Homo sapiens: one gene and its partner. The protein of the gene in region 1 purifies or fractionates together with the protein of each later gene. This does not show direct contact. Each region holds a gene or a part of one and is shown on either strand. Other genes may lie near its edges. The genes, in order: IDI1 and VWA8.

Region 1 (15,411 bases):
AAAAAAAAAAATCAGGCAATTAATAGCCCTAAAATGGCTACTGTTTCATAAAAGAATGAGTTGCACATCTCTTACTTTAAATCAAAACTAGAAATGATTAATGATTAAGCATGGTGAGGAAGGCATGTTGAAACAGCTAAGTCGTGAATGCAAAGGAAAAGTTCTTGAAGGAAATTTGAAGTGCTCCTACAGTGAATACACAAATGGTAAGAAAATAAAACAGCTTTATTGCTGATATGGAGAAACTCTGAGTGGTCTGTATAGATTAAACCAGCCACAATATTCTGATAAAGCCTAATCCAGAGTAAGGCCCTAACTCTCTTCAGTTTTCTGAAGGCTGAGAGAGGTAAGGAAGCTACAGAAGAAAAATCTGAAGCTATCAGAGGTTGGTTCATGAGGTTGAAGGAAAGAAGCTGTCTCTATAATACAAAAGTGCAAGATAGGCCAGGCATGGTGGCTTATGCCTGTAATTCCAGCACTTTGGGAGGCCAATGCAAGTGGATCCCTTGAGGTGAGGAGTTCAAGACCAGCCTGGCCAACATGGTGAAACCCTGCCTCCACTAAAAATACAAAAATTAACTGGGTGTGGTGGCACACGCCTGTAGTCCCAGCTACTCAGGAGGCTAAGGCAGGAGGATCACTTGAACCCAGGAGTTGGAGGTTGCTGTAAGCCAAGATCACACCACCACACTCCTGGGTAACAGAGTGAGACTCCATCTCAAAAAAAAAAATGTGCAAGTGCAAGATAAAGCAGCAAGTCATCTAGGAGATCTACCTAAGATCACTGATGAAGACGGCTTTGCTAAACAATAGGTTTTCATTGGAGTTGAAACAACCTTATTTTGGGAAAAGATGCCGCCCAGGACTGTCATAACTAGAGAGGAGAAGTCAAAGCCTGGCTTCAGAGCTCCAAAGGACAGGCTGACCCTTGCTAGGGGGCTAGTGCAGCTGATGACTTTATGTTGAAGCCAGTGCTCATTTATCATTCTGAAAATCCTAGAGTCCTTAAGCGTTATGCTAATTCTAGTCTGCCTCTGCTGTGTAGATAGAACAACAAAGCCTAGATGACAGCACATCTACTTACACAGTGTGGTTTACTAAATATTGTCAGCCCACTGTTGTTGAGACCTACTGCTCAGGAAAAAAAAAAGATTTCGTTTCAAAATATTACTGCTGATTTACAGTGCTCCTGTTCACCCAAGAGCTCTGATGGAGATATACAAGGAGATTCATGTTGATTTCATGCCTGCTAACACAACATCCCTTTTGCAGCCCATAGCTCAAGAAGTCATTTTGACTTTCAAGTCTCATTATTTAAGAAATACATTTTGTAAGGCTATGGCTGCCCGAAGATGTAACTGAATCACTGCACTAGCATAATAAAACATGAATGGATAAGCAGTTGCTTCTTGTGGATGAACAAAGAAAGTGGTCTCTTGAGATGGAACCTAATCCTGGTGAAGATGTGAACACTGTTGAAATGATAACAAAGGATTCAGAATACTCCATAGACTTAGTTTATGAAGTAGCAGCAGGGTTTGAGAGGATTGACTCTAACTTTGGAAGTTTTCCTGGCCGGGTGCGGTGGCTCATGCCTATAATCCCAGCATTTTGAGAGGCCAAGGTGGGCAGATCACAAGGTCAGGAGTTCAAGACCAGCCTGGCCAACATGGTGAAACCCAAGCTCTACTAATAATACAAAAATTAGCCGGGCATGGTGGCACACGCCCATAGTGCCAGCTACTCATGAGGCTGAGGTAGGAGAATTGCTTGAACCCAGGAGGTGGAGGTTACAGTGAGCCAAGATCGCACCACTGCACTTCAGCCTGGGCGAAAGAACGAGACTCTGTCTCAAAAAAAAGTTTTCCTGTGGTTTAAAAAAAATCTTTCATGAAAAGAATTGTCAATCAACGTGACAAATTTCATTATTGTCTTATTTTAAGAAACTGCAACAGCCACCCCAACTTTCAAGCACCACCTTGATCAACAGCCATCAACATTGAGGCAAAACCCTCCACCAGCAAAAAGATTATGACTCATTGAAGGCTCAGCTGATGGTTAGCAGTAAAAAATATTAACTTTAATCATCTCGACCATTCAGTACTCATCTAATATTCTCTATAACAAAATGGGAAATGCACATAAAGCACTTCTGCTACATGCTGAATTATGATTGTTGTCTCCAGGAAAAGAACTTGTGGGAACGTTTGAGTTGTAAGCTGAACTAACTAGCTGCTTTTTTCATGAAATACCGCTTTTACTGGAAAGAACTGACAGATAAACTGAGGTATTCAAACCTAGATATTTGGCAGACATTTTCGTGAAAATAAATATGTTCGTGCCACTTCAAGGAACATAATTCTCAGTACTTGTTGCCAATAATGTTGGAATTTTCATGCAAAAATTCAAATAAAAAACAAACTTAAAACCATCAAGAACTTGGTGACTTTATGTGGAAGCCAGTGCTACAATACTTTAGCTTCCCAATACTTAAAAACTTTTCTGATGAGATTACTAGTGATATTAACAATGTGATTGATATTGAATAATGAAATGTTTTAGCATTTGGAAGATCTGTTTAATTCAGTAAATCAGTATTTTCCAAATGACCAATGCATGACATTTCAACATCACGCACAGGAAAATAGGCATTCGAGGTACAGTCAAAAATAATGAGTTTTAATGTAACAAGTACAAAATGTCCATTGAAGTGGTTTCAAATTCCAAATAGTAATTGGAAAATCCACCACTCGTGTTTTGGGGTAGTAGTATCGAAAAAGAATAACCAAGATAATTTGAAAAGGCTATTAAAAAATACTTCTCAATTTTCAAACTGCATACAGCAGGTGCTCATTCATTTCTTTGTAACATTGATGAGAAAAAGACTCCCAGCCAGGGGCACTGTCTTTGTGGTGTTTACGTGTTCTCGCCACACCTGCATAGGTTTTCTCTGGGTGCTGCAGTTCTTGCCACATCCCAGAGGTGTGCACGTGAGGTGAACTGGTGTGTCTTCACTGTCCCAGTCTGAGTGTGGGTGTGTGAGTGGCCCTGTGATGGAATGGCGTCCTGTCCAGGGCTGGTTCCCTCTTTGTGCCCTGAGCTACTGAAACAGGCTTCAGCTACACATGACCCAGAACTGGAATAATTAAGTAATAATTATCTTTTTATTCATCTTTCTTAAATGTATGTATAGCTCACATTTATTTCAATGTTTAATATTAGAATACTTTGGCCTTTAGAAGCTTAGTGATTTTTTTTTTCCTTGGCCAGAAGTATGCTTTAGGAACTTAATCCTTATTTTTTAGCCTCTGGTAAAATTGGTTTTGCTATACGTTGTTTCACTTAAAAGTCCTGATTCCCAAGAACGCACTGACAGCAGTGAGGACTTGCTGCGCATGCGGGAGGCCAGATTTTCTTATCTGTGTGAAGCCAGACATGAAAGAGATCTGTCAACACATAAAACAAAATCAAAGTCTGTTTTTTGTCTGGAAAAGATTTTTAATAAAAATATAACTTATGTTAGTGTCGTGTGTTTTTTAAGTGAATATTTTAATATGTTTAATTTCTATGTTAGTAAATAGCAGTAGTAAACAACAGTGAGCAAAAGCTTTTAGGTGTCCTCAGTACATTTTAAGAGAGTGCAAGCGTCCTGTGACCAAGAAGTTTGAGAACTGGTGCCCACCAGGTTCATCTCACAAGTTCAGTATTTTAAATTCCACACAAAAGGTAGAGGAAATAGCTGAATTCGCTTCAGCTGCGCATACATTTCACGATTATTTAAAAGTTTAGAGGGCTAGGCGCGGTGGCTCACACCCGGAATCTCAGCACTTCGGTAAGCTGAGCCAGGTGGATCACTTGAGGTCAGGAGTTCCAGACCAGCCTGACCAACATGCGGAAACCCGTCTCTACTAAAAATACGAAATAAGCCGGGCGTGGTGGCGCATGCCTGTAATTCCAGCTACTTGGGAGGCTGAGACGGGACAATTGCCTGAACCCGGGCGGCGGAGGTTGCTGTGAGCGGAGACTGCACCATTGCACTCAAGCCTGGGCAACAAGAATGAAACTGTCTCAAAAAAAAAAAATTTAGAACGTAGTCATGTACCTCGAAAGCGAACACTCCCAACATAGCGTGGAACACCCCACACCCCCGGCGACTTTGCTCCGCCTTGGTCCCGGTCGCAGACACCGCAGAAAGGCCATCGTTCTAGACATACGAGAACTCCCCGTGCAGCCAAACGCTGTAGTCCCAGCGGCGGAACTCGGGGGGGGGGAGGGGGGGGAGTGCCCAACCAGCCAGTCAGCAGTGACGTCCCGCCTTTCCTCCGTTTCCATTGGTCCAGCCATGCGGAGGTCGCTCCCATGGGACGCCGAGCTTCCGGCTGCAGGGCTTGGCGCCCGGGCGCTTTCGGATTGGGAGGGCTTCCTCCATGGAACGCGAGCCTCGAGACGTCTGACGTTAGGCACCGTTCGCAGCGCCTCGGGCTCGCACGGCAGGATCGAAAGCGTGATTGGCTGGCGGCGTCTGTGGTCTCGGGCACCGCCCAGTCGCGGGACGCTGCCTCTGCGGAACTGGGGGTGGGGCGTGTTGACCCCCTTAAAGGCGCCAGAGCCCGCGGTCACGGCTCAGGTTCCCGGTGCTTCGCGCGTCTGCCGTTGTCACAGGCCAGGGAGGTGGCACCACCAGGCGAAGCTTGGCGAGATTGTGTCGTCAAGCGCGTACGGGCGCCAATTGGCCGGGCGATGTGGCGTGGACTGGCGCTGGCGCGAGCGATTGGCTGCGCGGCCCGGGGGCGGGGCCAGTGGGCGGTGCGCGCCGCAGACTGTGCTCAAAGCGGGCGCCATCCGGGACCGGCGGTTGTCTGTGGCCGGAGGCTGATCAGGTACTGTGGACGGGCGGCGGAGTTCGGGAGACAGGGGCAGGGCGGCATCGGGGAGCTGCGGGACGGGGCGGGGAGGAGGCCCGAGGTCTGAGCCACCCGTGAGGTCTCGGCGCGGAGGCCTGGACAGCTGGGGGTGGCGGCGTTGGTCTCCCGAACTGGAGGGAGGCCGGGCCTTCCCGGGCTGTGGTGGGCGCCCGCGCCCCGTGGAAGGCGGAGGCGTGAGTCGGGGCGTCAGAGACGTTGCCATTCTTTGTCAGCGGAAAAGATCGTCGTCTGCGCACAGTCACCTGAGGTTTAGGAACTCGTGGAACTGGAAACCGAGTCGCAGGAGACTAAGAGTTGCGAGTCTCCCCTTAGAGAATTCAGAAACAAGCGTAGACAGCATCGTCAGAAACACGAGCGTGACGACACCGGCCTCCCCGTGCCGAGTCCACGCGTGTGACGCGGGTGCATACACCTGCGTCCGTGCAAGAGGGTGACAGCAACACACTCAAGGCGCTTCTCCTGGGAATGGAGCAGGAGAAGAGATGGGGAGCATCGCATAGATGGAACTAGACCTTTTTCTTGGGTTGGATGATGTGTTCCCGCGTCTACTACATGGTATTCTTTAAACGCATAAATAGACGTATTCATTTTATCTTGTGATTATGCAGCTTAGCTTTAAAATCTGAATTCTGAAAATCCTGAAAGAGCAATTGTCATTACAGCTGGGCGGTGGTGCACGCCTTTAATCCCAGCACTTTGGGAGGCGGAGTCGAAGGCTGCAGTGAGCCGAGATCGCGCCACTGCACTCCAGCTTGGGCGACAGACATAGCAAGACCCAGCCCCATCCCCCCGGAAAAAAAGTCATGTCAAAAAGTCTAGTAATTATGTAGTAACGAAACCTATCTTAGTGATCACCTAATATACAGTTGGCCTACTGTATCCTTGGGGTCCATATCCATGGATTTAACCAACTGCACATTATAAAATATTTGGAAAAAAATTTCATCTGTACTGAACATATACAGACTTATTCTGTAAACAATACAGCACAACTATTTATGTAGGATTTACATGTTTTAGATACTATAAGAGATCATCTACAGATGATAATTTAACGTTCGGCCCGCATCACTTAACAGGGATACTTTGGAGAAGTTCATTGTTAGGTACTTTCATCATTGTGGAAGCAGAGTGCGCTGACGCAGACCTAGACAGTGGAGCAGCTGGGCTGTGTGGTGTAGACAGACGGTGGAGCAGCTGGGCTGTGTGGTGTAGACAGTGGAGCAGCTGGGCTGTGTGGTGTAGACAAAGGACCAGACAGTGGAGCAGCTGGGCTGTGTGGTGTAGACAGTGGAGCAGCTGGGCTGTGTGGTGTAGACAGTAGACAGTGGAGCAGCTGGGCTGTGTGGTGTAGACAGTGGAGCAGCTGGGCTGTGTGGTGTAGACAGTGGAGCAGCTGGGCTGTGTGGTGTAGACAGTGGAGCAGCTGGGCTGTGTGGTGTAGACAGTGGAGCAGCTGGGCTGTGTGGTGTAGACAGTGGAGCAGCTGGGCTGTGTGGTGTAGACAGTGGAGCAGCTGGGCTGTGTGGTGTAGACAGTGGAGCAGCTGGGCTGTGTGGTGTAGACAGTGGAGCAGCTGGGCTGTGTGGTGTAGACAGTGGAGCAGCTGGGCTGTGTGGTGTAGACAGTGGAGCAGCTGGGCTGTGTGGTGTAGACAGTGGAGCAGCTGGGCTGTGTGGTGTAGACAGTGGAGCAGCTGGGCTGTGTGGTGTAGACAGTGGAGCAGCTGGGCTGTGTGGTGTAGACAGTGGAGCAGCTGGGCTGTGTGGTGTAGACAGTGGAGCAGCTGGGCTGTGTGGTGTAGACAGTGGAGCAGCTGGGCTGTGTGGTGTAGACAGTGGAGCAGCTGGGCTGTGTGGTGTAGACAGTGGAGCAGCTGGGCTGTGTGGTGTAGACAGTGGAGCAGCTGGGCTGTGTGGTGTAGACAGTGGAGCAGCTGGGCTGTGTGGTGTAGACAGACAGTGGAGCAGCTGGGCTGTGTGGTGTAGACAGTGGAGCAGCTGGGCTGTGTGGTGTAGACAGTGGAGCAGCTGGGCTGTGTGGTGTAGACAGTGGAGCAGCTGGGCTGTGTGGTGTAGACAGTGGAGCAGCTGGGCTGTGTGGTGTAGACAGTGGAGCAGCTGGGCTGTGTGGTGTAGACAGTGGAGCAGCTGGGCTGTGTGGTGTAGACAGTGGAGCAGCTGGGCTGTGTGGTGTAGACAGTGGAGCAGCTGGGCTGTGTGGTGTAGACAGTGGAGCAGCTGGGCTGTGTGGTGTAGACAGTGGAGCAGCTGGGCGGTGTGGTGTAGACAGTGGAGCAGCTGGGCTGTGTGGTGTAGACAGACAGTGGAGCAGCTGGGCTGTGTGGTGTAGCCAGTTGCTCTTAGGCTGTTTTTCCTGTTGCTTCAGGCCTAAATTTGGACAGTGTGTGACTGTGCTGAATAATGTGGGCAGTTGTAACACAACAGCAAGTATTTGTGTATCTAAACATAGAAAAGGTGATGTGTTGTGCTCCGATGTTACAATGGCTACAACATCATTAGCAATAGGAATATGTCAGTTCTGTTATAATTTTATGGAACCACTGTAGTATATGCAGTCTGTAGTGTACCGAAACACCATCATGTGACACATGTATGTACACAGTGGATATACACAGGTGATCTGCAAATATTATGCCATTTTATATCTGAAACTTCAGCATCCTCAAATTTTGGTAGCTGTGGGAGGTCCTGGAACTAACTCCCATATATACCAAAGGATGACTGTATATAAAACTAGCCTATAGAAGTTGGAAATCTTTCTAAAATTGAGGCTAACTCTGAAGTTGACTTCCTTTTCACATTATTTTCCCTCTTGATTTGTTTTAATCATTAACCTTATTTCAGATTTTTTGTATTAGATATCAATATCTCCATCATCACTGACTCCTGACACACGCATTCACACACACACACACACACACACACACACCCAGACCCTATGTGGGTCTAGAACTTTGTATTAAGTAGCTGTTTAAACACTTTGTGTACATTCTGCAGTATGCTTGAACTCTGTTGAAAGTATTTCAGTGGTCCCCGTGTGGTGGCTCACTCCTGTAATCTCAACACTTTGGGAGGCCAAAGCAGGCAGATCTCCTGAGGTTAGGAGTTCGAGATCAGCATGGCCAGCATGGCAAGACTTCGTCTCTACTAAAAATACAAAAATTAGCCTGGCGTGGTGGTGCACGCCTGTAGTCCCAGCTACTTGGGAGGTCAAAGCAGGAGAATCACTTGAACCCAGGAGGTGGGGGTTGTAGTGAGCTGAGATTGCACCATTGCATTCCAGCCTGGGCAACAAAACGAGACTCCCTCTCAGAAACAAAAAAGTATTTCAGTAAAATCTATGTATTTGAAATAGAGTCACATAGAAAGTAGAGCACATGGGATCTTCAAAATATATTGGGTAGAAAAATCAGAAAACAAAAATTATTATTCATTCAGAAATAAAGGAGAAGAAAAAAGGGAATAAAAAACTTCAAGGTCAGACTATGTAAAGGTGCCCTGAAGGATACAAAGATTAGAAAGCTTAGACGCTGCTGGATACAGATATGTAAAAGTGTGAGTCAGAATACTGAAAGTACCCTAATAAGTGCTTTACGTTGTAATCACATGGGAGGGATAAATGGGGGTTCAGAAAATTAATGTTTGATGCACTAAGGTAGGAATGGGCCAACTATGGCCTATAGGCCAAATCTGGCCTGCTGCCTGTTGTTACGTCCTGTGAGCTGAGTGTTTTTCTCATATTTAAACGGATGGAGAAGAATCAAAATATTTTGTGACACATGAAAATTAAATGTAATTCAGTGTCCATAAATATTGGCATGCACCCACACTCAGTTTACATACTGCCCAGTTCACCTATTGCCTGTGACTATTTTAGTGTTACAGAGGCAGAGTTCATACTCTCTGGCCCTTCACAGAAAAAACTTGCCAAGCACTGCCTTAAAGCATCTATTGAATATAACGAATTAAGTCTTCTCCTGTTTATCTAGAATGATATCAGCTAAGTACTGTCCTGGGGGAAATTGACAAAACTCATACAAATAATTTTTCTGATAACCCAGGAGCTTGGGTTGAGAAAAACTGGATTAAGTCTTACTGTGACATTGGTAGAAAGGTTATTGAATGTCTGGCACGAGTTGTGCCTTGAAAAAATGGATTTCAACCAAGATTGGCCTGTGGCAATCTTGAGCAACTATGCAGAGACAGGCAGTGGGAAAAACAATTCAGGATGGCAATGGGAGCACATTCTAGAGATTACAGAAGCTGGTGTAGAAAAGCAGGATGAAAAGTTAGGTTGGGGCCAAAAACCAGAGAAGAAAAGTACACTGGAAAAAGGATTGAGTATCAAGTGCTGCAGAGGATCTCAGAGGTCAAGAATTTAGAGCGGAACGTTGAGCTTGGCCTTCAGGAGCATGACTGTGATAAAAGGCCAGCTGTGAAACCTGTAGGAGAAATGATGACCCAGATAGTGCTGAGCAGCCGGCTGGCAGCGTTCTTGGGGTCCCTGTGGGGATGCAGAGTGGTACAACTGCAGATGGGGAAGCAGCATCATTATTAACCTGTGTTTATATGACATTCAGAAAAATATATGATGGCCTTTCTTTCTCTTTTCCTTTAATATTAGTGTTCTAGAACAGATCAGACATTTTGTAATGATGCCTGAAATAAACACTAACCACCTCGACAAGCAACAGGTTCAACTCCTGGCAGAGATGTGTATCCTTATTGATGAAAATGACAATAAAATTGGAGCTGAGACCAAGAAGAATTGTCACCTGAACGAGAACATTGAGAAAGGTGCTGCTTTGAAACAGTCTTTCTTGTAAAGCGATTTGTGTAGGCATTTCCGATTTGCTGAGAAGAGCACTCTGTTCAAGGAAGTGCAGTCTTCAGTAATACCGTATTTTCTCGTTGGTTCCAGTTCGTTAAATAGTGTGGTCATTAGCATCTGCTTTGCTGTCTTCCTGTTACAGCGATTTCTCTTCACTTCATGCCTGTTACTCGGCTTCTTCAGAGTTATTCTGGATTCATAGAAGAGGGACTAGCCCTGACATACAGCAGCAGCCTAGCCTCTAATATTTCTAGAGAGTGGAGAGAGGCGGGCACCATGCAGGGAAGCATGTGCCTTCACCACTTTCCGAGAACTGAATGTCCTTGATAGGGAACTTGACTGCCGGAAAGGGGCCACCAGCATCACCATTTCCTTCACTCGACGGCCAACTTCCTTGCCCAGTGCAGAGCTCTTCCTCACCATAGCCATGCAGAGACTATGCATGTGGATAAACCATGGGAAAAAGCAAAAGCAGCAGCAAGTTACTAATGTTATTCTGAACTGCAGGGAGAGAATTTGGCAAATAACTGGTACTTAAGGCTAAAATAATTGTTATTTCTTTTGCTTTCAGGATTATTGCATCGAGCTTTTAGTGTCTTCTTATTCAACACCGAAAATAAGCTTCTGCTACAGCAAAGATCAGATGCTAAGATTACCTTTCCAGGTTAGTACACTTTTAATGTACAATATTGTGTTTGTACATTAATTTGACTTTTTATCATTCTGAATTCTTGGAGCCAAGGTCACAAAGGGAAATCCTGTGAATGGCATAATTTTATATTCTGCATAAAGTGAGTTTACACAATGAGTGCAACCTAATACAACAGCAAGAAAAAATAAGAACTAGTAAGCAATTGGGCAATATGTATAATTTACATATTTATCTTTAATCTGTATTATCTACACTTTGATCTTTTTTGGTTAAAGAAGTATTAATAAGGAACCTACCTACAAATGTAGTCTGTTTCACAACATAATTACTGATAGCCCATTATAACCAATTTTAAAATCCTTAAAATAATTACTGATAGCCCATTATAACCAATTTTAAAATCCTTAAAATAATTACTGATAGCCCATTATAACTGATTTTAAAATCCTTAAAAATCATTTCATTTTTCAGTTACTTATAAAACTTTTTCTTGATCTTTCAGACCTACTTTGAAGAAAAGTTGATCTGTCTCTGTATTACCATTTTCCAGGTTGTTTTACGAATACGTGTTGTAGTCATCCATTAAGCAATCCAGCCGAGCTTGAGGAAAGTGACGCCCTTGGAGTGAGGCGAGCAGCACAGAGACGGCTGAAAGCTGAGCTAGGAATTCCCTTGGAAGAGGTAACCAGCTCTCCTACACAACCATACAAGCTGAAACCTAAACATACTATAAAAAGGTTTTTAATAAAATTTTTAAATTCAAATGTAGTTCTCTGCTTGGTAACCTCCGGAGTTATGAGTTAGCCCCACAAACCATCTTGAATAAAGATTATTTAAATTTTAATTTCTTAATATCACTTGTCAAAACTTAGCTCAATACGGGGATGGATTGATCTGTTAAGCACTATATAAGGTTGAATATTTCTATAATTGATCAAATCTAAGATGAGTATTTTCAAGTGTTACAGCTCTTGTAGAATTTAACTGACAGGTTTTCCAGTTCTCACCTAAAACTCCCCACCTACAAAAAAGGTGAAGATTTTCTGATGGAAACTCTTAGGAATATGAACCATAAATCTCATTGGTTTAATTGAAATCATTTTTTTTCTTGGAATTGTCCCCCTTAAATAAGACCTGGATAAATAAAGTATTTCTTATCTATATTTTCCAAAAAGCAATTTTAAAATATGAAAAAGAAAAATGTCGGGCCGGTCGTGGTGGCTCACGCCTGTAATCCCAGCACTTTGGGAGGCTGAGGCAGGTGGATCACGAGGTCAGGAGTTCGAGACCAGCCTGACCAACATGGTGAAACTCCGTCTCTACTAAAAATACAAAAACTAGCTGGGCATGGTGGGGCGGCACGTCTGTAATCCCAGCTACTCAGGAGGCTGAGGCAGGAGAATCGCTTGAACCTGGGAGGCGGAGGTTGCAGTGAGCTGAGATCACACCATTGCACTCCAGCTTGGGTGACAGCAAGACTCCGTCTCACAAAAAAAAAAAAAAGAAGAAAAAGAAGAATGTCACATTTCTAGTTTGAGTGACTGCCCCTTTTTTTAACATTAAAAAAAAAAAAACTTATCTGATCGGGAAAAAAACGCAAACACTTGAAACTAATGATGTAATCATTTTTCCATATATAATATTAAGATTTCCATATACCATTGATAGGAGATTAATGCTTTAACCAAGTTCTAATCCTAAAACTATACTGCTGTTCGAGATATCGCTGTAATACAGTGAGCTAATTTTAGATTTTTTTTGTTACGGTGGCCGATGTTTTAATTACTTTTTTTTTTTTAATGTCTTAGGTTCCTCCAGAAGAAATTAATTATTTAACACGAATTCACTACAAAGCTCAGTCTGATGGTATCTGGGGTGAACATGAAATTGATTACATTTTGTTGGTGAGGAAGAATGTAACTTTGAATCCAGATCCCAATGAGATTAAAAGCTATTGTTATGTGTCAAAGGAAGAACTAAAAGAACTTCTGAAAAAAGCAGCCAGTGGTGAAATTAAGATAACGCCATGGTTTAAAATTATTGCAGCGACTTTTCTCTTTAAATGGTGGGATAACTTAAATCATTTGAATCAGTTTGTTGACCATGAGAAAATATACAGAATGTGAATATGTAGGTAAATGATTACAGAAAAATTTATCTGCTTAACAAACTTAGAATGACTTTTTCCTTTTAAATTTAGTTCTATCATTAATTTATCATTAAATTTAGTTCTATCATTTGGTACTATCATTAATGTATTATATACACTGATACTTTAAAACTTGTGTGGAAAAAACTAACTTATAATTTTGTATCACACACCCTGGATATGTGTTCTGTTTCTAAGCGACATTTGTGAGAGATTATTGTAAAATGAGAGCGAGCAAATAAAACTTAATTTAATCTTTGCAGATACATACTTATGGGAAATTTGAACAAATGAGTGAAACTCTGTTTTTAGTAGGCTGTGATAAACATTTCCGGAGCACTTGCAGAGGACTTGCTATTTGCCAGGTGCTTTATGTATCATTAAATTTTTCTCATAGTTCAGAAAAATGTGCAAAGGAAACTATTGTCTCGCTCCTTCAAAACAGTCTTAATTAACTTTCATATTAGCAGATTAAACTAGCAGAGCAGGTTCAAGGGAAATTAAATGATATGGACCCTAATTTGTATCATTCTGAGTTGATTGTGTGGTTTATTCATTCTGGAAACATGTTGATACTTACAGTCAGCCACTGCTTTTGATAAGTGATATTGATTAGGTTGAATCTTCTTGTAAATAGTATTTACCAGTTAGCAAAGTCTGTGTTTTCAGAATTACAGTGAGCACAGAGGTGTTCATAAAATGGGAATTGAGTCCCACTCGGTAAGAGTTGCTTAAACTTGACACTGTTGACATTTGGGCTGGATAAAACCCCTGTGGTGGGGTCTGTGCTGTGCATTGCAGGATGGTGAGCAGCGTCCCTCTCATGTGACACCCACAGTTATGCCGGATGTTGCCAGATGCCCCTAGGGGACAGAGTCAACCCCCAACTGAGGACCACTGTCCTACAGAGTCAGGAAATATTGTAGGGAGAAAAAAATAACAACAACAAAGGCCTGTGTTAATGTTAAATAGATGAGATTATGGAATGTGTATATTAATGTTAAAAATTGTACCTTGATCAATGTACTTTTTATAAACTTGCCATAGATATCTCAGATTTGAAACCTCAAGACAGATTTATTATTCTTAAATGCTGTATGATAATGAAGAAAAATAAAAATTTATTTCTTGCAAAGTTAAATGTTTGTTAAATTCAATAGAATGACTCATTTATGGTTAACTTTGGGCAATTTATAATTTCAGACAAGACTGTTTAGCAAGTATTTTATTGAAAAGTAAAAAAAATTGCAATTTAATACTGTGTTTAGTTTGTTAAAATTTTGATACACTAATAGGATATTGCCTGTATAGTTTCCGTTGCATTTATAATATTGTTTCTAATTTTTTTAGTTTTATTTTCTAGGAAGTTTTAGGCTGAAAGCCACATATAATTAGTTATGTGATAACTATGAGTTGCCATGGCTACTGAATTGGACATGGGACCCTTAGACTGCTACCCAGCACCTTGTTAAGTACTTAGCAAGAGTTAGATACTACTGTTGTAATATTACTAGGATGCCATCCAGAAAATGTAAGGAATGTCTTTTGACCTGATAAACTCCTTAGAACTCCTTCATCTTTTATAAAGAGGAGTATCCCTCTCCTAGATATAGCTGCTTCTGACCCCAAAGGCAGATGTGTTGGTTTTCAACTAGAAAGCTAAATGGTACCTATAAATTTTTTTTTTCTTAAACTGTTTTAAACTCTTAATCTTCAAAATATATACTTCTTTGATTCTGGTCAAACCATTGCCAACTCCTTTAAGGACAAAGTAGAGGTGGCCTTCTAATAATTGCTGATTCTGTTTCCCTACCTATATTATCAAGAGAACAAGACCAAAACAGAAAATGGTATAATAGGAAGGAAGGCACATTTTCTTCTTACTTGGCCCTGGCACCTGGGGACAAGTCCAGGTCGTACCCGCAGTGCATCCCTGTGGGAACTGCCCTCCACCTGCTCCCTGGGGACACGTCCAGGTCGTACCCGCAGTGCGTCCCTGTGGGAACTGCCCTCCACCTGCTCCCTGGGGACAAGTCCAGGTCGTACCCGCAGTGCGTCCCTGTGGGAACTGCCCTCCACCTGCTCCCTGGGGACAAGTCCAGGTCGTACCCGCAGTGCGTCCCTGTGGGAACTGCCCTCCACCTGCTCCCTGGGGACAAGTCCAGGTCGTACCCGCAGTGCGTCCCTGTGGGACCTGCCCTCCACCTGCTCCATGGGGACAAGTCCAGGTCGTACCCGCAGTGCGTCCCTGTGGGAACTGCCCTCCACCTGCTCCCTGGGGACACGTCCAGGTCGTACCCGCAGTGCGTCCCTGTGGGAACTGCCCTCCACCTGCTCCCTGGGGACACGTCCAGGTCGTACCCGCAGTGCGTCCCTGTGGGAACTGCCCTCCACCTGCTCCCTGGGGACACGTCCAGGTCGTACCCGCAGTGCGTCCCTGTGGGAACTGCCCTCCACCTGCTCCCTGGGGACAAGCCCAGGTTGTACCCGAAGTGGGTCCCTGTGGGAACTGCCCTCCACCTGCCCCTTAGGGGGTGCTTGTGCAGTGGTTTCATCCTCTCACTTGGATCTGTCCGTTGGACCCTCACTAGGGTTGGGAGTTCCTCATGGGATGAGGTACTCTAGATCCCCTCTTGACAGATTTTCTTTTTATTATTTCAGATACACCTCTTCTTCACCCTTCCTCTCTGGGTGCTTTTTCAGCCCTAAGTATGTACTTACACATTTTATAACATTTTATAGCATGAACTGAAGTGTGTATTTGTGTGTATTCAGGTATCCTGACAGCTTTCTGCTTTACAATTTTCACACATTATACTTATTTACCATAC
Region 2 (15,316 bases), on another chromosome or scaffold:
GGGAGGCTGAGGTAGGAGAATCGCTTGAACCTGGGAGGCAGAGGCTGCAGTGAGCCAAGATTGAGCCACTGCACTCCAGCCTGGGCGACAGAGCAAGACTCTGTCTCAAAAAATAATAATAATAATAATAATAATAATAAATAAATAAACCACAGTGAGAGGACAGGCATTACTGGAATAGAGTAAGGACCTCTGAAAATTCATTCCTTCTTAAAAAAACAATAATAATGGCATAAATTGTCAAACTCAACTTCTTTAGAACTCTGGAAATCAAAAAGTTTTCAACAATCTCATGAGCATTTATGTAAGAAAAGGGGTTAATTCGCCCTAACCCCATCCCCATGTCCCTAGCTCTGTGATTGTTTTTCTTTTCTTTTTTCTTTTATTGAGACAGGGTCTCACTCTGTTGTTCAAGCAGGAGGCATGCAGTTGCACAATCATGGCTCACTGCAGCCTCAACCACAATAAAAAACAATATTTTATTTTTTACAGAAACAGGGTTTTAGTGTCTCACTATGTTGCCCAAGCTGGTCTCAAACTCCTGGCCTCAAGCGATCATCCCACCTTAGCCTCCCAAAGTGCTAGGATTACAGGCGTGAGCCCAATTGTTTTACAACAAACTGTCCATAATCATGGTGAAAACCAGCAGCCTGGAAGTCACTGAAGTGAACAGAACTATACAGAAGCTCCTCAAAAGCCTCAATCCCAAAAAATTATCCCTACTTGACCTGTCTGGCAGCTCCCTGAAATGCTCCATTTTTAGAATTTGTCTTTATTTGATGTACTCAGAGCTACTGTATGCAAACAGCACTAACTCGGGGCATTTGTCAAAAAAAATCAACAATTGTTTAACATCACAGCTGCCTGAGGCAGCAAAACCAGTTGGAGCTAACAAGAGGACAACCAAAAAACTTTAAAGACAGAAACAAAAACTGAAAATGAGATGTTTGCAGAAGGCTTTGAAAAGCTTCAGTGTATGCCTAAGAATCTGGAAGGCCATGCATATATTCAGGAAAATCCTGAGAAGGGCCTAATCTCTCTCTCACCTTCCGCTAATCTTGAGGGTCCACACAAGCAGAAAGAAAAGGTTGAGACACAACTGTAAGCTACCTATGGAGCACTGAAGTCATGTCCAACTTGCACACACAGACTCTCAGCAAAAGCCAAGAGACTTATTGATTCAAGGCATTAAAGAAATCTCCGTTCAAACATTAGCTGACCACTAAGCTAACAAGGCATGACAAAGAACACAGACTTTAAAGAAATAGACTAGGAACATCACTAAAAAAAAAAACAGCAACACAAGGAGCAACCACAAAGCCTGGGAAGGAGAGATTATACTATTTAAAATGTCTACTTTCAGTAACAACAAAATTATAAGAAATTAAGAAATAGGAGAGTATGGCTCATACATACAGAAAAAAGGAGTCAATAAAAACTATCTCTGAGTAAACCAGACATTTGACTAAGTAGAAAAACACTTTAAATCAGCTACCACAAATACATTCAAAGAATTAAAAGAAATCATGTCTAAAGAAGTATGACAACAACGTCTCATGAAACAGAGTACCAATAAAGAGAAATTATAAAACAAGATCCAAATAAAAATTCTGAACTTGAAAACTCTGATTAAATTAACCAGAGGGGCTCAACAACAGATGTGAGCAGGCAGAGGAAAGAATCAGCAAACTTGAAGATTAGTCAGTTGAGATGATCCAATCTAAGGAACAGAAAGAAGAAATTATAAAGAAAAATGAACTGAGTCTCACAGACTTGTGGGGCACCATCAAATCTATCAAATATAATGGGAGTCCTCGAAGGAGAGAGAAAAAAGAGAATAAATAAATAATAATGAAAAATAATAGCCAAAATTTTGCCAACTTCGATGAAAAACATTAATTTCCACATCCCATCCAAGAAGCTCAACAAACTCAAAACAAGGTAAATTCAAAGAAATCTGCACTTAGACACATCCACAGTCAAACTATCAAAAAGCTGAAGAGAGAATCTTGATAGCAGAGAAAAACTGACTTATCATATAAAAAGGATCCTTGTTAAGATTGATAACTGACTTCTTTTCAAAATCTAGGAAGTCCACAAACAGTAAGAAGACATATTCAAAGTGCTGAAAAAAAAAAACCTGTCAACCAAGAATTCTATTTCCAGTAAAATTATCCTTCAAAATACAAAGGAGAAATGAAGACATTTCCAAATTTAAAAAAAAAAAAGTGATAATTCACCACTAGCAAACCTGCCATCTAGAAGATACTTACTAAAGGGCATCCTTCCTTTAAGCTGAAATGAAAGCACACTAGACAGTAACTCAAATCCACATGAAGAAATAAAGATTATCAGTAAAGGGAACTACATAGATAAATAATAATGACAACGTAAGCCTATTTTTGTTTGTAACTCTTTTCTTCTACCTGATTTTAAAAACTTCATAAAGCAATAATTATAAAACTGTGCTGATAAACTTTTAATGTATAAAGATATAGTTTGTATGACAATAATAGCACTGAGGAGCTGGAAGGGAACAGAGCTACATTGGAGTAGTTTATATACTATTGAAACTAAGTTACCATTAATCTAAACAAGATTGTTTTAGGTTAAAGTGTTAATTAGAATCCCTAGGATGACCACTAACAAAATAATTAAAAAAAAAAAAAGAGTAGTAAAAGAAAAAGTGGGCCAGAGTGGAAAGGACAGATTGCAGAGGCATTTAGGGGGTAGAGTCAATGGAACCTTGGGTTAGATGAAAGTGACATATTCTCCCTCAAGAAGCTGACAAAGATTCTCTTCTTGCCCAAACTTTAGTCAGGTTTCTAAACCTTTTCCTAGACACACCTGTGTACTTCCTTGTAAAATCCAGTTGTAGCAAAAGAACGCCATTAAAACAATTTATCCAGAACCCGCCCATCCTCATAATCTAATCACCCTTGATAGCTGATCAGAGTCCTCATCTTCTACAATCCCCCAGGTGATGTCTGATCACCCCAGCCTGTCGTCAGCAAGAATTTTGTTAGGTTGGCTTAGCCAGAATCTCCCTTAACCCTGACATTTCCTCTTAACAATTTTCTATCCACCAACTCCCACACTGTTCCTTGGCTATAAACTACCACTTGCCCATGCTGCATTGGGGGTTGAGCCCAGTCTTTCTCCCCCACTGCAAGACTCATAGTGACAGTCCTGAATAAAGTCTTCCTTACCCGGCTTTAACACATATCATTGATTTATTTTTTCTTTAACAGAGCACATAGTCTAGTGGAAGAATCTGAAGAGTGAACAAAAAGCTATTCTATATCATGACCAATGACTGGAACAAAGAATAGGAGAGGAGAGTGGCATGAGATGAGACTAAGATTAGATCAAGAAATTAATAGCTAAGGATGGACCTTTGTTCCCAAAATACTAAAAACTCATTTAAAGAATTTTGAGAAAAGAAGTGACATGATTTTGGGCAAATAATGATTGCAAGTCATTAGGGAAATACAAATCAGGACCACAATGAGATGTCACTTCACATGTCTGACTATGGCTGTAATAAAAAAGACAAACAATAACAAGTGTTAGTGAGGATGTGGAAAAACTAGAATCCTCACACATTGCTAGTTAGAATGTAACATGGTGTAGGTGATTTGAAAACCATATTGGTGGTCGGGCGCAGTGGCTCATGCCAGTAAACCCAGCACTTTGGGAGGCTGAGGTGGGCGGATCACATGAGGACAGGAGTTTGAGACCAGCCTGATCAATGTGGTGAAACCCCATCTCTACCAAAAAATACAAAAATTGCTGGGGATGGTAACCTGCACCTATAGTCCCAGCTGCTGGAGAGGCTGAGGACCTGGAGGTTGAACCTGGGAGGGGGAGGTTGCAGTGAGCCGACATTGCACCACTGCACCCCAGCCTGGGCCACAAAGTGAGACCCTGTCTCAAAAAAAAAAAAAAAAAAAAAACAAAACAAAACATTTTGGTAATTCCTTGAAATGTTAAACATAGAGTTACCATGTGACCTAGCAATTTATCTTCTAGGTAAAACCCAAGAAAGTTGAAAATATGTCCATATAAAAACTTGCATATGGATGCTTGGAGTGGCAATATTCACAATAGTCCGAAAGTGGAAACAATCCAAATGTCCATCAACTGATGAAAGGATAAGCAAAATGTGGAATATCCACACAATGGAATATAATTTAGCCATAAAAAGCAATGAACTACAGCATCAATAAACCTTGAAAACATTATGCTAAGATAAGCAAGATACAATGGCTACATATCCCATGTATATAAAATGTCCAAAATAGACAAATCTATAGAAACAGAAAGTATATTAGTAGTTGCTAAATGCTGGGAGGGTGGTGGGGGAGAGAGAAGAAAGAAAATGGGAAATAACTATTAATGAGTATAAAGTTTCTTCATGGAGTGATGAAAACGTTAGATAACAGTATGGTTGTACAACTCTGAATAAACTAAAATTACTGAATTGTACAATATGGAAAGGTGAACTTTATGGTATATGAATTATATCTCAATAAAACTGTTATAAACCAAAAACCATGATGAGTTACTTTTTCACACCTGGTAGACTAAGATTAAAAAGACTATGCTGACAAGGATGTAGAACATCACTGTCGGTCAAAGGTAAAATGGTACAACTGCTTTGGAGAATTGTTTGGCAGTGAGTTAAAAAGTTAAACAGGCATCTATAGTATGACATATCAACTCAACTCCTAGATTTTTACTCAACAGAAGTAAAAACTGATAACTACAAGAATTGTACAGGAATGTTCACAGCAGGCTTCAAATGAAAGCCATCCAAATGTCTATCAATAGGAGAATGGATAAACAAACTGTGGTATGTTTATACAATGGAACATTATTCAGGAATTAAAAACAAACTGATAGGTACAGCAACATAGATGAATCTCAAATTAATGCTCTTCATGAGAAAAAAAATACATACACACATACAACCATACCATGTGACTCTATTTATATATAGCTAAAGAACAAGCAAAACTAATCTACCATCATAAAAAAAAAAAAAAAAAAAAAAAAAGAACAGTGATTTCCAGGGCAGGGTAAAGGGGTAGGAACACAAGAGAACATTTGGGATGATTAATGTAATCTTGGTGGTTATACAGGTTTATAAAATTGTCAAAACCAACCAAAATAAATACTTAAGATCTGTGCATCTGTTCACGATAGCAAAGACTTGGAACCAACCCAAATGCCCATCAATGATAGACTGGATAAAGAAAATGTGGCACCTATACACCATGGAATACTATGTAGCCATAAAAAATGATGAGTTCATGTCCTTTGCAGGGACATGGATGAAACTGGAAACCATCATTCTCAGAAAACTAACACAGGTACAGAAAACCAAACACTGTATGTTCTCACTCATAAGTGGGAGTTGAACAATGAGAACACATGGACACAGGGAGGGGAACAACACACACTGGGGCCTGTCAGGGGGTAGGGGGCTAGGGGAGGAATAGCATTAGGAGAAGTATCTAATGTAGATGACCGGTTGATGGGTGCAGCAAACCACCATGGCACGTGTATACCTATGTAACAAACCTGCGTGTACTGCACATGTGTCCCAGGGCTTAAAGTATAATTAAAAAAAAAAAAAGTTCTGTGCATTATATGTAAATCTTATTCCAGGTAAAAAAGAAACAGTAGGATGTGAGAAAAATAAATGTTTCTACTGAAATATTGATGGGTGAAGTAATAGGATGTCTGGGATAGGTTTTAAATACTCCAGAACAAAAATCAGTTAAAAGAAGATTGGCATAATATTGATAAATGTTGAAGCTGGATGATAAAATCATTAGGTTTATACTATTCTCTCTAGCTTTAAATAACTTTGAAAATTCCTATAATGAAAAGTTAAAAGTTATTCATTCATATATTAATAAATATTTCTTACTGTAGTTCTGTGGCACAAGTTCTGGATTCTTAGGAATTTTCAACTTGTAGGATACATCTCCAATATTAACTGTATCACCTAAAAAGAGATTTTAAAAACAGAATAATTATAAGAGACAAACGAGAAAACCATAGACTATGCAACAATGCTTGTCCTGACCTACAGAGAGGGATGTTACAGAAATGTACTACGCAGCTGTCTATAAGTCAAGCACTATGCTCTAAAACTTCTATCCAAAGTATATATGTATAAAGGAGAAGTGAGGCATCAGTGCAATTCACATTTTAAATGTGTTAGCAAACAAACAAACAAAAACATGATAAAATACATCAACAAGCTTTATTTCATGAATAGCAACATTAATATAGGCAAAAGCAATACAGAAGAATGCATTTTGTTTAAGATCATTCAAAGTATCCATAGAGTAAAATCTTTTTTTTTTTTTGTTTTTGAGATGGAGTCTCACTCTGTCACCTGGGCTGGAGTGCAGTGGTGCAAGCTCAGCTCACTGCAAGCTCCGCCTCCCGGGTTCACACCATTCTCCTGCCTCAGCCTCCAGAGTAGCTGGGATTACAGGCGCCTGCCACCATGCCCAGCTAGCTTTTTGTATTTTTAGTAGAGACGGGGTTTCACCATGTTAGCCAGGATGATCTCGATCTCCTGACCTCGTGATCTGCCCGCCTTGGCCTCCCAAAGTGCTGGGATTACAGGCATGAGTCACCACACTCAGCCTTTTTTTTTTTTTTTTTTTAAGACGGACTCTTATTCTGCCACCCAGGCTGGAGTGCAGTGATGTGATCTTGGCTCACCGCAACTTCCGCCTCCTGGGTTCAAGTGATTCTCCTGCCTCAGCCTCCTGAGTAGCTGGGATTACAGGTATGTGCCACCACATCTGGCTAATTTTTGTATTTTTAGTAGAGATGAGGTTTCACCATGTTGGCCAGGCTGGTCTTGAACTCCTGACCTCAAGTGATCCGCCCACCTCGGCCTCCCAAAGTGCTGGGATTACAGGTGTGAGCCTCCACACCCAGCCCATAGAGTGTTACCTTTAACACAGATCCTCAACCTTTTTACATATCTTTGTACACCCGTATTTTTACTGCATACAGTTTCAAATTATCCAGCAACATATCCTCAAACTTCAACATTTCTAGGTGCATAAAAGGAATAAAGCCCCAGTGGCATAAATGCCAAGAACTGGCCAGGTGCAGTGGCTCACGCCTGTAATCCTAGCACTTTGGGAGGCCAAGGCAGGCGGATCACTTGAGGTCAGGAGTTAGAGACCAGCCTGACCAACATGGTAAAACCCCGTCTCTACTAAAAATACAAAAATTAGCTGGGCGTGGTGGTACGTACCTGTAATCCCAGCTACTTGGGAGGCTGAGGCAGGAGAATCGCTTAAAGCCAGGAGGCGGAGGTTGCAGCAAGCCAAGATTACGCCACTGCACTCCAGCCTGGGCAACGGTGCGACACTCCGTCTCAAATAAATAAAAAATAAAAGCCAAGAATTCCTACATGAAATAAGCAAAAGCAGGCAAAAGTTTTCAGTAAGTTCTATACAGTTCTATTTTTTAATGTAACCTTAATTTCCGAGTGATCTTCTAAAGCCGAGGACTAAACTGAATAATCTCTCCCCGCTGTGCTCTCTCTAACAGCAAAATAGGCATGGTGATACCATTTGCATCTAGAATTTCATTTGGAAAGGGCTCAGAGACACTCCAAAAAAGTAGTCGTGCAAAACTCATCTTTCAGCACTGCCAGTTTAAAGCTAGCAAGATACCTTGAACACTAAGGCCTTAAATCATGGTACTAATAACAATAGCCAACATTTGTTGAATGCTTACTACCTTCTAAGTATTTTTTGCATTCTCAAAATAATCCTATGAGACAGAAATTTTACAAATGAGAAAATTTGTAAATCCATAACAGAGTTTTTAACAGATAAAGAAATTTATTACAGGTATGTGGTAAATTGAGAGAGGAAGATAAGGACTACACACAAAGCTAAATCCCTGCTAGGTCCAAAACTGGCAGCCAGAAAAAAGCAAGGCAAAAGATGATGAGGACCAAAATTCAAAAGCCTGCAAAGCTCCTCCATAACCCGTGCACCGCTCCCTTTTCCTCCCCTGTCCAATTAACTCTTTGTCTTCACGCAATCTATCACAGAGATTCTCAAAGCATCAACGTCACCTGGGAACTTGTAAGTCATATAAATCTTCAGGCCCCACCTCAGACCTACTGAATTAGAAACCCTAAGGTCCAGCAATCGGTGTTACAATGAGCCCTCCAGATGATCTCTAATGCATGTTTGAGATCATTTGGTCGTTTAAGTTCTAACACCCTCAAAAAACAGGTGGTCAGCAGTGCCTCATATAGTACAATCTTAGTTACTGCCAGGTATTGGTTGACTGGTCATCTCGCCCTATTTTCCTTAATGCAGGAAAGAACCTATAAATTAGCTACTTTCTACAGTAGCTTTTCTTTTAAAAGATAAGCTTGCTTACAAATATAAGTGATATTATCTACTGGCTTTTATTACAGAGTAGTTTCAAGAATTATAGTTACAGTATTTTCAAATAGGATGTCTTTACAAATGTTATTTCACTTCCTGAAAAGACTGTAATTATTTGGCCTCCTGACAAAATGATACTGAGTAATTAATCTGAACATAAGAAAAACGTTTTCAGGCACAGGTTCTCATTACAAACATTCCCTGAGTGTTAGAGCTGACCGACATCATCCTTCTAATAAATAATCTAGAAAAAGGGCAGACTATACAAATTCATGGTAACTTGACAATTGGCTGTCCATTTTTTTTTTAAAAAAAGTAAAATTCATACCTCACATTTCTGAAAGACAGTACATTCAAACTGAGTAACTGAGGAGAGTACAAAAAGGGAACTATTTACAAAGGTATAGCAGAGTTTACGGAAACCAAAAAAGATGGTGCAGTATCCTAGGACTAGCAATAACAGAAAGTCATTACCGCCCCTAGGCCTGAAGGGGCAAGGGGAGAGAGCAAGCAGAGAGGGTCACTGTGTTAGGAAGCCTCCTTCTGGGTAACACAGCAAACCCATAATGGTGACCTGGCAGGGAGGGAGCTGGGAAATAAACATGAAGCAAAAACGGACAGAACTAAAAGTGGAAATAGAAAAATGCACAATCACATCTAGATATTAATAGCTTTAAGTAGCTCTCTTGGTAAATAATGGAAGAAGTAGGAAAAAATAAAGAAGGATACAGGATAAGGATAATTTTTTCTCAGCCTTCTGGCAAAGACCAAGTATAGACGTAAAGAAAGAGAAGATTGGAAAACATTATTAATCACTTGGCCTAAATGACATTTATGGAACACTACACCCAACAACAGAATGCATATTCTATTTATTATTTATTTAAGTATTACTGCAAGTATGTTTTTATTTTCTCAACCTATCAACTGAATATTGTATTTTATAAAGCACTTTTTAGTATTGTAATTGGTTCCTCATGATCAGAATGCATATCCTTTTTAAATGCACATGGAACATTCACCAAAATAAATTATAGGCTGGACCATAAAGCAAGTCTCAAGGAATTTAAAGATGAGACCAGGCACAATGGCTGGTGCCTATAATCCCAGCACTTTGGGAGGCCGAGGTGGGTGGATCACCTGAGGCCAGGAGTTTGAGACCAGCCAGACCAACATAGTGAAACCCCATCTCTACTAAAAATACAAAATTAGCTGAGCGTGGTGGCTGGCACATGCCTGTAATCCTAGCTACTTGGGAGACTGAAGCAGGAGAATTGCTTGAACCAGGGAGGCGGAGGTTGCAGTGAGCCGAGATAGCGCCATTGCACTCCAGCCTGGGCAACAAGAGTGAAACTCTGTGTCAAAAAAAATTAAAAAAGAAAATTAAAGGATGGAAGTCATAAAGATTATGTTTTCTTACCACAGTGGAATTAAACTGGAAATCAGTAACAAAAAGGTAACTGGAAAATCCCCAAACATTTGGAAATCAAGCAACAGGCTTCTTAAAAAATCCAAAAAATAAATCACAACGGAAATTGGACTCATTGGGAAACAGGGTGGTGATCAATGAGCCACATCTGCAATAGACAAAAGGGAAAAGTTATGACATTCATATGGACCAGGCATCTGCCATCTCTGCCTCAAACATTGATGTTCTTGGCCATCTTCTGTTACTACACTACACTTTCCTCAGTCATTTAATCCATACCAATGTCCCAACTCTGACCTCTATACAACCTTTTTTTTTTTTTCAGTTAAGGGTACTCTTCAAACACCATATACAACTAATTCTTTAAATGTCTATTTTGGCTCAGATCTCTCTCCTGAGTTTCATACCTGCCAGTAGCCTACTGGAGACTTTACCTAGATATTCCAGAGACAACTCAACAAACACACAGAAACAGAATTCTATATTGTCCATTGTGTGCGCCTAACCACCTCTAACCAGCTCCACCTCTTGTATTCCTATCTCAGTGACTAACACTTTATCTCCTCAGCCTAGAAGACCTTCCACATCTCTCTCACACCACTTGCCCTCTACACAACTACTACTGAAATATCTTCATCTCCCCATTGAACCTTCCCTAACTTTTCCTCTAGCACAAATTGATCACTCCATTAGTCTTTCTGCTAGCACAGGATCTGATTTATGCTTCTGTAATGGAAATACAAATTCAAGGAGATAAGAGACATTTTCTAACAATTAAAGAAGAGCTTTTTATCTACTTCCAAAATAGAGATAGGATATTCTATTTCCACTTAAAAGATACACTCAGAATTTGTACTAAATTACTAGAATATTCTGTTTCCACTTAAAAGATACACTCAGAATTTGTAATATTTTTTCTTTTAAATGCCAATATTTACAACATACTGGAAATGTCATCGTTTGCAACTATTTAAACTTACCAGGAAAACTTTAGCTATTAACCTAAAAATGTTCAAAGGGATACATATTTTTAAAATCCTCCTAGCAGATAAATAAGAAAAATTTTTGAAGACTACTGTTTAGTCTACAGGACTCTTTTTTTCTTGGTGCAAGGCCTAAGTTTTAATCATCATTTTATCCCCAATACCTGAAACCTACCAGATATTCAATAAATGTTTGACAAATGAATAATTATAATTTTAAATTTTTTCTTAAGTATTGTTTTTAAGCTGTAATGTTTTCTCCTTTGAAAACATCCCACCTACTAATGTGCTTATAAGTCAAGCCATCTATAATGATTTAAGTGAGGTAGTTTACTCTCTAAAGGGGAATAAGAATACTTATAAGACAACAGGTAACATAATTTAGGCAAAAGAAGCAAATGTATGCCTTTCTTCATGTAAACTGTGGGTTTACTTGAACTAGACTCAAATACTATTGAAGTGTCTAAAGTGCCTGAACCTTGCTGGATTTCTGATTGGTTCAGTTCACAGGGGCTCCTGTTAAGAAGTACACTACAGTCTTTATTATTATCCTGAGATTCTTCATGATAGCCCTTCTGGTGCACCATATCCTCTCAAGTCTTAAATGTTTGTATGCAGCCATTCATTGAGCATTCAATGGTCTCACTTTGACCAGAACAGCAAGAACATAAAGAATTATTCAACTGATATGACATCATGGCTTTTAAATTCCATAATGAGACCAAGTAAGTCCATTAAGTTGGTGACAGAGAGTGGCAACAATGCCCAAAGTTTCAGTGAATCTGTCAAAATTGAGAAGCTAACCAAAGGGGCAAATTGTTAAATTCAACCAAATTTGGTCTAAGGATGCCTCCGTACTTGGAGTCCTTATGTAATGAATTGCAACATAACTTTGTATGTAAATTAACTGAAACCGGAACTTAGGAGTATACTTTGGTAACAAATAGATGAGTCTTAGCCAATCTGAGCAGCTGAGCTTGGGTCAACCACAGGCTGCCAACTGATGAGACCGTGTTCAAGTAAGGCAAACACTGAGTTATAGCCAAGTAAGCTGTTTCCGTACCTGACTTCCATTTTCTGTCCATAAATGCTGCCTGCTCACGTTTCAGAATGGAGCTCTCTGAGCTTATTCTGGTTCTGAGGACTGCCCAATTCACAAATTGTTCTGTGCTTAAATTCTGTTAAGTTTAGTGAGTCTAAAGTTTCTAACAGTAGCTTTGACAAAGAAGTTGGTTTCATGAGGGTTTTTCAACAGCGGCCCTATGAACATTTTGGGCCAGATAATTTTTTGTTGTGAGGGGCTGTCCTGTGTGTCATGGACTGTTTAGCAGCATCACTGGCCTCTACCCGCTAGATGCCAGTAGCACCCCTCCCTCCTGGTTCTGATAACCAAAAAGAAACATCTCCAGACATTGCTAAATGTCCCCTGAGGGGGAGAAATCACCTTGGGTTGAGAACTACTGGGTTAGTGTCATCATTTTTATATATACTAAACTTAGACCCAAGAGAAAACTAAATATATCAGCAATTCCCACACTAGTCTATGTGCCCCTAATGCAGATCTGCCTAATGATTTATAAGCTTACCATTGTTCTGAGCCTTTCTGTTAAATTCTTGAATACACAATGGGGTCAGAATATCCTCAGGGTCAAAATAACCTGCTGCAGGTTTAAAGTAGTTAATAATTTCCCCAAGGTTCAATACCTGATAAATACAAAACTTAGACCAAAACCACAGTATAGTTCTTTCCTCTTTACACTGTATTTCTCAGTTGAAGCCACAGTTCTATATTTCCCCTCCTCAAAGTTATTTCTATCTAATCCTATTGTAGCCCAAGGATATAATCTTAAAATAACAAAAATTCATGTAGATGGATGTTTATTGCATTGTTTATATATTTTAGACAACATGAATGTGCAAGAATGAGACAGTAAAATAAATTATATGGACAAACATATAAACTTAATAACTACTTTAAACAATCATGTACAATGATATTTATTACCATGTTAATATGTTCACAATAATGGATGTAATAATTATAAAACATACATGATCCCATTTCTTTAAAAAAATGTATCTGTATAAATATACATATCATCCAGGCACAGTGGCTCAAATCTGTAATCCCAGCACTTTGGGAGGCAAAGATGGGCAGATCACTTTAAGTCAGGAGTTCGAGACCAGCCTGGCCAACATGGTGAAACCCCATCTCTACCAAAAATACAAAAATTAGCTGGGGTGGCTCATATGGTTTGCCTGTGTCCGACCCAAATCTTGTCTTGAATTCTAGCTCCCATAATCCCCATGTGTCATGGGAGGGACCCAGTGGGAGGTAATTGAATCATGGGGGCAGGTTTTTCCTGTGCTGTTCTCGTGGTAGTGAAAAAGTCTCACGAGGTCTGATGGTTCTATAAAGGGGAGTTTCTGTACACAAGCTCTCTTACTTGCCGCTATGTAAGACGTGACTTTTCTCCTCCTTCGCCTTCCACAATGATTGTGAGGCCTACCCAGCCATGCGAAACTATTGAGTCCATGAAACCTCTTTTTCTTCATAAATTACCCAGTCTCTGGCATGTCCTTATAGCAGTGTGAGAACAGATTAATACAGTGGTGCACACCTGTAGTCCCAGCTACTTGGGAGGCTGAAGCAGGAGAATCGCTTGAACCCAGGAGGTGGAGGTTGCAGTAAGCCAAGACTGCTCCACTGCACTCCAGCCTGGGTGCCACAGCAAGACTCCATCTCAAAAATAAATAAATAAATAATTATACATATATATGTAATCTGATAGGATTAATGCTAAAAAGTTGATAATTATAAATTTGGGTGGGAGGATCATGTTTTAGGGAATCTGTACTTATCACTCTTCTATAATAAACATAGATTGCTGTGTAAAAGTATTTTAGGGTATTTCTATAAACAAATTTACTTCATATACAAGAGTCATAAAGAAAAAACTGTGAATCCCTTTAATAATAATGGCGTTAAAGGAAAGCACCAAAATGTCATGATATATTTATACAGTTATGTTTCTAGGTTTATCATTTGATCTATAGTATATTTGAATCCATTTAACATCAGAGTCCCACTGAAACAACTTGCTTGGCTCCATCTGTAAAAACACTACAATAATCTTTATTGAAAACTCTCTGCAGTAGATATCCTTGTTAACCTCTTTGCTCTTAAAACCAAGAGACAGTAATTTTAATGGAAGTATAAAGAGATATAAAGAATTTACAATTATAGATACTTATACTATCTGACAGCACAGGATAAAAAGCAGTGGGTTTGGGTTGAGTTTATCTGCTTGTTTTGTTTTTAACATAAATGACCTATTTTCCTTCTGCTTATCAGGCTTAACAAAGGTCCTCTCTTGAGAGCAAACGACAATTCCAGCCTCTCCTGCTCCTTCTCTGTATGAACTTTCACAAAATAAGCCACTGAATGCTTACTAGGTACAAAGTGTTGGCAGGCACCAAACGAATATATAGATAAACAAAACAAATACTCCAGGAGAAATAACAGCAGTATATAACTTAAATATATTATTTATGAACTTTGTTGTTCTTTTTTCAAACTATTAGGAAGCAATGTCAATTACAGAGAGAGGAGATAATCAGTTACTGGTCACATGTATGAATGCAGCTGAGAGCATCATCCCAACATAAGATGTAATCCATTATGGCCTATTGCTATTTGTAGTTTTACACTTGTCCATGTATGATCTCTGATTCAAAATGGGACACTTCCATCTTGATAGCCTTACTCTCAGGCCTCAGAGTAGCCAAAAGTGTGCTGTCCATTTACCTGGCTCACAACTGCTCTTACTCAAGTCCAGATCTCTGGTGGGTTCCCAGCTGCATTCAGTTACAGTTCTCACACCCTCAAAAAATACCTCTTTTTGGTCTGATCCTGCCAGAGTAAATGACTGATTTAAAGAAGATAGTATGTTCTCTGTAATATGTCCATGACTCTCACATTTGAAGCAAAGCCTATACTTTGATTTACTGGCTATAACAAAATTTGAGGACATTTACAACTTATCTACCAATACGTATATAATACAGACTTTAAAAACTCACACCCACATGTGTTTTTACAATCAACATGTATTATCCATGTACAAAGAACAATTGTTTTTTAAAAAGTTCAAGTCAATTCACTCGGCTAAATCTGCCTACCCAGATAGTCTGAACAGTCCTGAATCTAAACAAACTTGGTTTCATGTCTTCTAAAGGCAAGGAAACAGAATAATTCTCAAATAGCTAAAACTGTACATACTAAGAATAAAAAAGCTAACTTTTATTGAGCATTAATATGTGCCACAGATTATATTAATTAATAAATCCTCACAACAACCATAATAGATATATTCTTCTTATCCTTTTACAGTTAAGAAAACTAGGACACAAAGTTAAGTAACCTACCCTCAACGACCCATGGTTAGATAGTG

Evidence for each region.
Region 2: the proteins of IDI1 (region 1) and VWA8 purify together in Homo sapiens (affinity purification with mass spectrometry; 3 studies listed by BioGRID and IntAct, with this or other methods). This does not show direct contact.

The regions. Positions count from the first base shown.
Region 1 is NC_000010.11:1,038,333-1,053,743, reverse strand, and holds IDI1 (isopentenyl-diphosphate Delta-isomerase 1), read left to right. Parts: upstream 1-4,624; 5' UTR 4,625-4,740; coding exon 4,741-4,880; exon of another isoform or gene 4,881-5,425; coding exon of another isoform or gene 5,426-5,480; intron 5,481-9,542; exon of another isoform or gene 9,543-9,572; coding exon 9,573-9,745; exon of another isoform or gene 9,746-10,234; coding exon of another isoform or gene 10,235-10,256; intron 10,257-10,350; coding exon 10,351-10,443; intron 10,444-10,981; coding exon 10,982-11,112; intron 11,113-12,239; coding exon 12,240-12,557; 3' UTR 12,558-14,325; downstream 14,326-15,411. UniProt on the Homo sapiens protein: Catalyzes the 1,3-allylic rearrangement of the homoallylic substrate isopentenyl (IPP) to its highly electrophilic allylic isomer, dimethylallyl diphosphate (DMAPP).
Region 2 is NC_000013.11:41,943,998-41,959,313, forward strand, and holds part of VWA8 (von Willebrand factor A domain-containing protein 8 isoform a precursor), read right to left. Parts: intron 6,017-15,316; coding exon 5,939-6,016; intron 1-5,938. UniProt on the Homo sapiens protein: Exhibits ATPase activity in vitro.